Linked DNA regions of Homo sapiens. The protein of the gene in region 2 purifies or fractionates together with the protein of the main gene of each other region. This does not show direct contact. Each region holds a gene or a part of one and is shown on either strand. Other genes may lie near its edges.

Region 1 (3,500 bases), on a different chromosome or scaffold from region 2:
GAAATGCAGGATGTCAAGGCCCAGGATGTCAAAGCTGCTGAATCAGGAAATCTGTATTTTAAGAAGATTCCCCCAGGCAATTTGGATGCAATTATAAGCTTGAGAAGCACTGATCTCTAGAGCCTCGTAGATCATGGCAAAAACTTGAACTTCAGTGTGAATGAACTTGAAAGCCATTGGGTTTTGAGCATGGGAGTGACATGGTCTGACATTTTAAAAGATTCACTGGCGACTGTGTTGAGCAGAGACTATAAGAGGCAAGGAGAGAAGCAGGGATACTAGTTAAGTGGCTAATACAGTAATACCAAGTAGATTGGACTGGAGGGATAGCAGGGGAAGTGGTGATAAAACGACTCAGGATATATTTTCAAAGTAGAGCTTTTACAGGAATGCTGATGGATTGGATTGGATTATAGGGTTAGTAAAGGAATCTGAGATGAGAATGATTACAAGGCTTTTTTTTTTTTTTTTTGACAGTCTTGCTCTGTTGGCTCTGTCACCCAGGTTGGCGTGCAGTGGCGTGATCTTGGCTCGCTGCAACCTCTGCCTCCCAGGTTCAAGCAATTCTCATGCCTCAGCCACCTGAGTATCTAGGATTACAGGTGTGCACCACCACGCCTGGCTAATTTTTTTTTTTTTTTTTTTTTTTTTTTTTTTTAGGCAGAGTCTCGCTCTCTCGCCCAGGCTGGAGTGCAGTGGCACCATCTCGGTTCACTGCAAGCTCCGCCTCCCAGGGTCACGACACCTGGCTAATTTTTGTATTTTTAGTAGAGATGCGGTTTTGCCGTGTTGTCCAGTCTGGTCTTGAACTTCTGGCCTCAAGTGATCTGCCTGCCTCGGCCTCCCAAAATGTTGGGATTACAGGCGTGGGCCACCACACCCGGCCTTACAAGGCTTTTTGACTTGAGCAACTAGAAGAATGAAGTTGCCATTTACTGAGATGGGGTAGCATATGGGAGGGAGAGGTTTAGATTGTTGGTTATGTGAGTGCAGAGTTCAAGGGAGAGGTTGTCAGCTAAAGATACACATTTAGGATTTAATACTCAGCGTGTAGACAGCACTTAAAGCCATGAGATTGCAGTGAGTGTAGATGGAGAAGAGCAGCAGTTTGAAGACCAAGACCTGAGACAGTCCAGCATTTAGAGGCTAGGAGGATGAAGAAGAACCAGTAGAAGAAATTAAGAAGCAGTCATTGGGGCAGAAAGCGAATGAAGGAGCTAAATGGACGCTAAATAAAGAGAGTGTTTCAAAAACAAAAGAGAGGTCAACTGCAGATTAACTACTGGATTTATTGATGTCATAGTCACTGGTAACCTTGACAAAGCTGTTTCAGGAGATGGTGGGGGCAAAAGCCTGCTAGGAATAGGTTTTTAAGAAAATGGAATGACAGAGATTAGAGATGATGAATTTACATAATGTATTTCTTTTAAGATGGGCAGCATTATGTGTGTCTATATTGAGTAGGAATGATCAGAGAGGGAAAAGCTGATGCTGCAGAAGGAAGAGGGAACAGTTGTTGGAGCAGTGCCTTTAGTAGGTAAGAGAGTACGTGATCTGGTACACGGGGAGGAGATGGCTTTATCAGAACATGGACAGTTTATCCACAGTAGCAAAAAAAAAAGGCAGAGTGTATGTATGGGCATAGATGCAACTAGTGCAGGTAAATATAGAGCTTGGGGCAGTTGAAAGTTCTCTTCTGTCTGCTTCTGTTTCCTCAATAGGAAGGGAAAGCCTTTAACTGAGAGTGAGTTTGGGAAGAAGGTCATGGTGTTATGAGCAGAGGATAGGTGTGAAATAATTGCCTAGAAGAAAACGAATAGACTTGGGAGTACGAATGCCCACTTCAGGTTAGTAGTCATGAGTTTAACGTAAGACTAGTCAGCTTGTTTCTGTGTTTTTCTCAGGCCATTTTTATTTGTGTGGTCACATGAATGGAGTAACCAGAAAGTTGGTTTAACCTAGATTTGCCAGGGGAGTATGTGTTGTTGTTGTTGTTAATTAGTGGAATAAGTTACAAGTATCACAGTATCTAACAATAGGGGAATAGTAAATTAAGATAGATATAAGGCCGAGTGTGGTGGCACTGCCTGTAGTCCCAGCTACTCAGAAGGCTGGGGCAGGAGGATCGCTTGAACCCAGAAGTTTGAGGCTGCAGTAAGCTATGATCCTGCACTGCACTTCGGCCTGCGCAACACAACAAACCCTGTCTCAAAAAAAATTGTTTACAAAGGTGTTTTTGTTGTTGTTGTTGTTGTTGCTTTTTTTTTGAGACGGAGTCTCACTCTGTCACCCAGGCTGGAATACAGTGGCACTATCTCGGCTCACTGCAACCTCCTCAGTTCAAGCGATTCTCCTGCCTCAGCCTCCTGAGCAGCTGGGATTACAGGCGCATGCCACCACACCTGGCTTTTTTTTTTTTTTTTTTTTTGTATTTTTATTAGAGACGGGGTTTCACCATGTTGGTCAGGCTGGTCTCGAACTCCTGACCTGATGATCCACCTGCCTCAGCCTACAAAGTGTTGGGATTACAGGCGTGAGCCACCACGTCTGGCCTACAAAGGTTTCTAATACACTTACTGTAATGCTAAATTTTAAAAAGCATGACAGAGAAGTGAATATGTGATACAAGCTCAACAATGGAAATACGATGTATAGAAAATGGACTGAGAAAAATATGCTGTTATAACTGAATGCCTGAGACTGGATATTTATAATGAAAGAAATTTATTGGCTCACATTTTTTTCTGGAGACTGGGAAGTCCCAAATCAATGCACCAGTAACTGGCAAGGGCCTTCTTGCTGCATTGTCACAGGGCAGAAGGCAGAAGGGCACAAGTGAACCCACTCCCCAGAGCCCTTTTTATAATAGTATGAATATATCGGTGAGGGGTTGGGCACGGTGGCTCACACCTGTAATCCCAGCACTTTGGGAGGCCGAGGCGGGCAGATCACAAGGTCAGGAGTTCGAGACCAGCCTGGCCAATATGGTGAAACCCCGTCTCTACTAAAAATACAAAAAATTAGCCGGGTGTGGTGACGCGTGCCTGTAATCCCAGCTACTCAGGAGGCTGAGGCGGGAGAATCACTTGAACCTGGGAGCCGGAGGTTGTAGTGAGCCGAGATCGTGCCACTGCACTTCAGCCTGGGTGACAGAGCGAGACTCCATCTATTTTTTTTTTTTTTTTAAAAAAGATGGTGAAACCCCGTCTCTACTAAAAAATAGAAAAATTAGCTAGGTGTGGTGGCAGGCACCTGTAATCCCAGCTACTCGGGAGGCTGAGGCACTGAATTGCTTGAACCCAGGAGGCAGAGGTTGCAGTGAGCTAACATCATGCCACTGCACTCCAGCCTGGGCGACAGAGCGAGACTCCGTCTCAAAAATATGTATATATATTTGTGAGGGTGGAGCCCTCATAACCTAAACACCTCCCATTAGACTCCACCTTCCAACACTGTCATGTTGGGGATTATATTTCCAACACATGAATTATGAGGGGCAC
Region 2 (5,752 bases):
GTGGGCCACTTTATCTGCATTTTTTAAGAGACAGGGTACCACTCTATAGCCCAAGCTGGAGTGCAATGGCAAGATCACAGCTCACTGCAGCCTTGACCTCCTGGGCTCAAGTGATCCTCCTACCTTGACCTCCCTAGTAGCTGGGACCGCAGGTGTGCACCACCAAACCTGGCTTTCTGAATTTTTTGTAGAGATGGGTGTCTCACTATGTTGCCCAGGCTGGCCTCAAATTTCTACTTTCAAGCAATCCTCCAGCCTTGGTCTCCCAAAGTATATATGTCCATTTTTAACAAGCATCTTTCACATTCGGCTGCAGAGGCTGGCAGACCCTGAAAAATGACAACCAGCTGAGTTCCTCCTCCCTGGCCATAGAGTTTGGGTAGCAAACTGTGAGAAGCTGAAAACAGCAGGACCTCCCAACCAGTGCTTCCTACACTGCTCCTCTCCTAAGAGTCACCTGAGGCATGAGTTAAGCACAAACATCAGTTCCTCCCTGAACACTGGGATTCTGGGAGGTCTGCAGCAGCGCCTGGGGCCAGCCAATTAGTCTCAGGTGAGGAGCTTTCTGAAATGAAGTATCTCCCTTGCCTCCTCTTTTGGTCCCCCAAGTCAACTGGTCAACCTGTCCTTTCTTCCCAGAAAACTTTATCAACATCCTCCCCTTTTGAAGAAACAAACTTTCCACCTCCCTCACTCCACTTCCCCAGCTGCCTCTAAAACAGGCATTCATGCCTTTAAGAGTTTTCGATGCTAACAAGAAAACTAACAGGAGTTACCAAAATAAACCAAGCATTGAGATAGTTAAATGTTATAAATACTCACAATTGCTCATTAATAGTTCTTTCTGCATTTATTAATTTCTTCATGAAGTATTTACTGAGCACCTAGTCTACTCCCAGGCACTAGGCCGTTCACAGATGTGAACACCACAGACAAGCCTCTGCTCTCATGCAGCTTACATTCCAGCTGGAAGGCAGGCCATGGAGAGAATAGCATCCTAATAATTGCATTTCAGTGACAAGCGCTACAAAACATATTAACTCAGGGAAATGAACTGGCAAGGATGAGGGAAGACAGGCTGCAAGGAAGGCCTCCCTGTGGGGGAGTTTCCGAGCTAAGAACCAAATGACAGGAAACAAAACTGCTGCAGGGAGCAAGGGACAGGAACCTATACACAAAGAAGCTAGGCCTGTTGGAAGAAGAGAGAGGCAGCCTGTGGTCCCACCACACAGCAAGTTGGAAGGGGTGACTCAAAGCCCAGATCTTGAAAGGCAGGATCTTGTGGCTGTTATGGTTAAGTACAACAGGAGACCCCCAGCATCCTTTAATAAGGGATCAGCTAATAGTGGCTGACCTGTGTTGAGTGCTGCCTGTGTGACAGGCACGATTCTACACACTTTGCATACATTAGCTCATTTTCTCTTCCCAGCAACTCTATGAAGTTGGAAGAAATACAAACCTCATTCCATGGTTGAGGAAGCTGAGTCAAACAGGCAGTAAACAGAGTAGCCAGAACTCAAAGCCAGGCTGTTTGGCTGCAGGCAATGACTGCAGAGGTGAACAAGGGCCAGACTGGTAGGGCCTTGAAGGCCAAGGTAAAGGGTTTGCATTTTATTTCAAGTGTAATGGAAAAAGCCACTGGAGGGGGACTGAGACTTCCTGGTCCATTCCCTTAGATCTGAACTAAGAGAGGGCACAAATTCTGGGACAAGAACACCAAATCTTGGCTGGGTTGGCTGTTAAACCAAACTACTGCAACTTCAGCCATACATAGAAGTCTAATCCAGCCCTGCTCGTATCAAGCAGAATGCTCTAGCCCCTGCAGAACTGGATGTCTTCCCTTTAGGTGAGGGTTCTCGAAGTGGGGCCCTAGACCAGCACCATCAGATTACCTGGGATCTTGTCACCAGTGCAATTTCTGAGGCCTGACCTCAGACCTACTGAATCTTAGAGACCCAGCAATCTGTTTCAACCAGCCTTCAGGGTAATCTGAATGTCCTCTGAAGTTGAAGAACCACCACTCTGGGATATCCGCATGCAGACACCACCATCACCACCAGCTCTCCTAAGTCATGCTGTGTATATCTTCGGGCAGCCCCTGCACTGCACACCAGGCCATTATTCCCGTAGGTCCCTGCTGGTGGGGCTCTACAGCTCCTGATTCCCGGAAATCTCATTACTGCCCCAACCCATTTTTCTAACAAATTTGATTTTCTGCACATATTTACTCTTCAAATGTTTCGGCCTCTTTTTCTGTTGTTTTTTGTTGTTGTTGTTTTGTTTTGTTTTTGAGATGCAGTCTTGCTCTGTCCCCCAGGCTGGAGTGCAATGGCACAATCTCGGCTCACTGCAACCTCCGCCTCCTGGGTTCAAGAGATTCTCCTGCCTCAGCCTCCCAAGTAGCTGGGATTACAGGCGCCTACCACCATGCCCAGCTAATTTTTGTATTTTTTAGTAGAGACGGGGTTTCACCATGTTGTTAAGGCTGGTCTCGAACTCCTGACCTCAGGTGATCCACCCGCCTCGGCCTCCCAAAGTGATGGGATTACAGGCATGAGCCACCACGCCTGGCCCTGTTTCAGTCTCTTTTGTCCCAGAGTAAACCTCCTCTTCCTTCCTACTTCTGGAGCTTAATTTTACTTTCAGGCTTAACCTAGGCTCCAAAGCAGATAGATGCAAAGGATACTTTCAGCTTTAACCTTGACTTTCCCCAACAGCCCTCAGTCACCGGATTTCCCTTTTTAATTTATTCATCCCAAGTTTATTCATGTTCCAATAAATATTTGTGCCCTCAGCCTTCTAGGAACTAATTGTGCAGGTGCCAGGTACTTCTGCCATACCAAAACAGACCTCATCCATGCCCTCATGAAACTGACCTATTAGGGGGAGATGGCAAGATGCAAATAAGTATATAATTGTAAATGATATATCAGAAAAGCCTGAGACTTGAATGATGAAGGGGCAGGCATGACAGTAGTTCATGACAGCAAACATATAGGGGCTGAATCTATGACAGATTCTGTTCTAAGTGCTTTTTACATATACTATCTAGGTAATCTTCCAACAGCCCTATGAGTTAAGTAGTATTATCACTCTCACTCTATATGGAAGGAAAATGAAGTATAGGGAGAATAAGGGGCACATAAACAGGACAGCCAGGGTCCCAACCCAAGCAGACTGGCACCAGAGCCTACCTTTCTAACCACAGGCTAAGGTGAGAAGAGCTGAGTGGAATGCTAAGTGGGAGGGGGTGGCTAGACAGGTGTCCAGGCAGAAAGACCAGAACAGAATATGCAGGAGCCCTGGGGAAGAGAAGTCACCCTGAAGCCAGAAGGGAGACCAAGCATACTGGTGAAACTGGAGAGCATCTGGTGGATTGGAAATATATTTTGGAACTGAACAGGATGTGCGCATGGATGTAGAGACGCTGATGGATGAATGGGGTATAAGCAAGGAGGAGGTCTCAAGGATGACTGCCAGTTTTCTGATTCCCTGCTTTAAAGGCTTGAGCACAGTCTGTTTGTAGGAAGCAAAGTATTATAACACAATATATAATGAAGTCCTACAGGATGCTGATGCACAGCAAGCTCTCAAAAAAATATAACCAATCCATCAGGCAGGTTAAAGCTTCCATATTCTCCCCCCCGCCCCACCCCCATACTTCTCCACATGGGTCTTCGTTCATGGGTTCCACCCTACCTTCTGGGAGCCCTTTTCTGAAATATATTACCACTGGTTAACAACAACAATAAAAATTACATTTATGGTGACAAGAATAACTTCTACCAGGAGGAGGGCTTTTCTCACACAAATGTTGGTTTGAAATTTTTTCTGAAGTGCACAAACTAATTTACAAATGAGAGGCTATGCAACTTGCCCAAGGCCACACAATTGCAAAAAAAAAAAAAAAGCTAAATCCAGGTTGGCCCAACTTGGAAGCCCACACTTCCTCCATTAAATCAGCATTTTCCACCACAGCTATCTCTAATGGAACACAACTGTTGTTTTCGATACACAGATGAACTTTTAAAGTGTTAATAGTAATGGTCTCATTTTATTATGTATAATCATATACGTGTGTGCATGTAATATCAAATAGATTAAAAATAGTATGTAAACATGATTTGATATAAATTTTATATATACATATATTTCAATAAATCCATGACTCCACGTGTAGTACTGCCCAGGAAACACAAAGTTTCTTAAAAAATTAGTTTAAAGAAAACTTCAGAATAAAAGTACAGGTGGTACAGGGGTAGGGTAGAAATCTTGAGGGAGGTAGGACATAAATAACTAAAGCTTAGGAAACTCTACTCACCAACCACCCAAGAACAGCCAAGCACCTGTTCCATATTGTACCCAAATTTGGCTACAGCCACACATAACTCTGTCTGCTTGGGAGAGTTAAAACATTGGCTGCCTTGGGGGAAAGGGGATAACATCAGAAGATAATTTAGCATAAATCATCCTCAAAGCAGTATTAGTTTTGACATAAATACTGGTTTGGTGGTACAACTCCTCTGCTTATTCACCTATACACCTTGGTTAAACGAGTCAAGCTTTCCCAGGCCTGTTTCACTTAGTCAAAAGGAAGTTATAGAAAGTAGTCCCTAAGGTCGCTTCCAGTTTTAGAACTCCATAAAATGTTGTGAGACCCTGAAATCCAAAATTACTCTTTCCAGAATCAGAGGCCCCAGTCGTGAAATGAGCATTGGCCTGAAGAACAAATGCTAAATAAGCCCACACAGCACCCCAAGCCATCATGCCATCAATTATGCTGCCCTCTGGAAAGACAGAGTAAGACATTAATTACAAGATGATAAAGTTCAACCAACAAAATATCCCTGTCCCTATCAAAACTTTAAGAATTTCCTCCCAATAATTTTTAAGCTATTAACTGTACACTTGATCCTCAGCTTCTCTATTATTTCCAGTCCTTAACCATTAACTTCATTCTAAGTTGGGGTAGCAGGGTGGGGTAACGGGTAGGAAAAAAAATCTGGGAAATCTTCTCAAACCTCTACCATCCTGTAAAGCTGGTGCTGGAAACCACCTGTAAAACCTTCCCAGCTTTCATCTGCGTGACTCCACTGATGCTAGAGCATATTTAGTGTGCTAAACCTCTAAAAGGAGTTGCTGTTCCTTACTTCTCAGACACTTTATAAGCAAGACAGTTTAGCCAGAACAAGCACTTACTCTCCTAATGAAAGATACACTTATCAAAAGGAAAGTCTTAAGGACCCCTCCTTGCCTGGTTTACAAGGCCCTTTCTGTGCTATCAGTGGGCCCACAAACTTTTAATGGAGGGTTTTTAGATTCTCAGAAAGGTAAGTTTTGAAATATGGTCAGTTCGTGTTTAGCTGAACAGAAGATGGGTGGACTGCAGCTGGCAAACTCAGAAAGCACTGCTGGGTAGCAGGTGATCAAAAAAAAAACAAAAAAAAGGCAAGTCCCTGGGCAAATGGTGTAGCCAAAGGTGATCATTATAACTAGAGACTTGTTACATAATTACTTGTTAACTCCTGACAAACAGATACACAGCTACAAAATGCCATGGTTACCCTAGCCATTGAAGCTAATGTAGCTGGTGCAAGAGTCAAGGTGTCTCCAATTAATCTCATTCAAAGAAATAAGCAATCCTGGGAACTATTCCCTCCCAAGGTAACTCGCCTGCTTTTACGTATACAAAACAGCCTCTAGCAATTAAGCCCATTGCCTCTAGAGACGAAAATCAGTGTTTCTCCTTAAT

What was found. Proteins that work in one complex are often made in the same cells at the same time.
Region 1: the proteins of MED12L (region 2) and NCAPD2 fractionate together in Homo sapiens (co-fractionation; one large-scale study listed by BioGRID). This does not show direct contact.

The regions. Positions count from the first base shown.
Region 1 is NC_000012.12:6,500,602-6,504,101, forward strand, and holds part of NCAPD2 (condensin complex subunit 1), read left to right. Parts: intron 1-3,500. UniProt on the Homo sapiens protein: Regulatory subunit of the condensin complex, a complex required for conversion of interphase chromatin into mitotic-like condense chromosomes.
Region 2 is NC_000003.12:151,087,579-151,093,330, reverse strand, and holds part of MED12L (mediator of RNA polymerase II transcription subunit 12-like protein), read right to left. Parts: intron 1-5,752. UniProt on the Homo sapiens protein: May be a component of the Mediator complex, a coactivator involved in the regulated transcription of nearly all RNA polymerase II-dependent genes.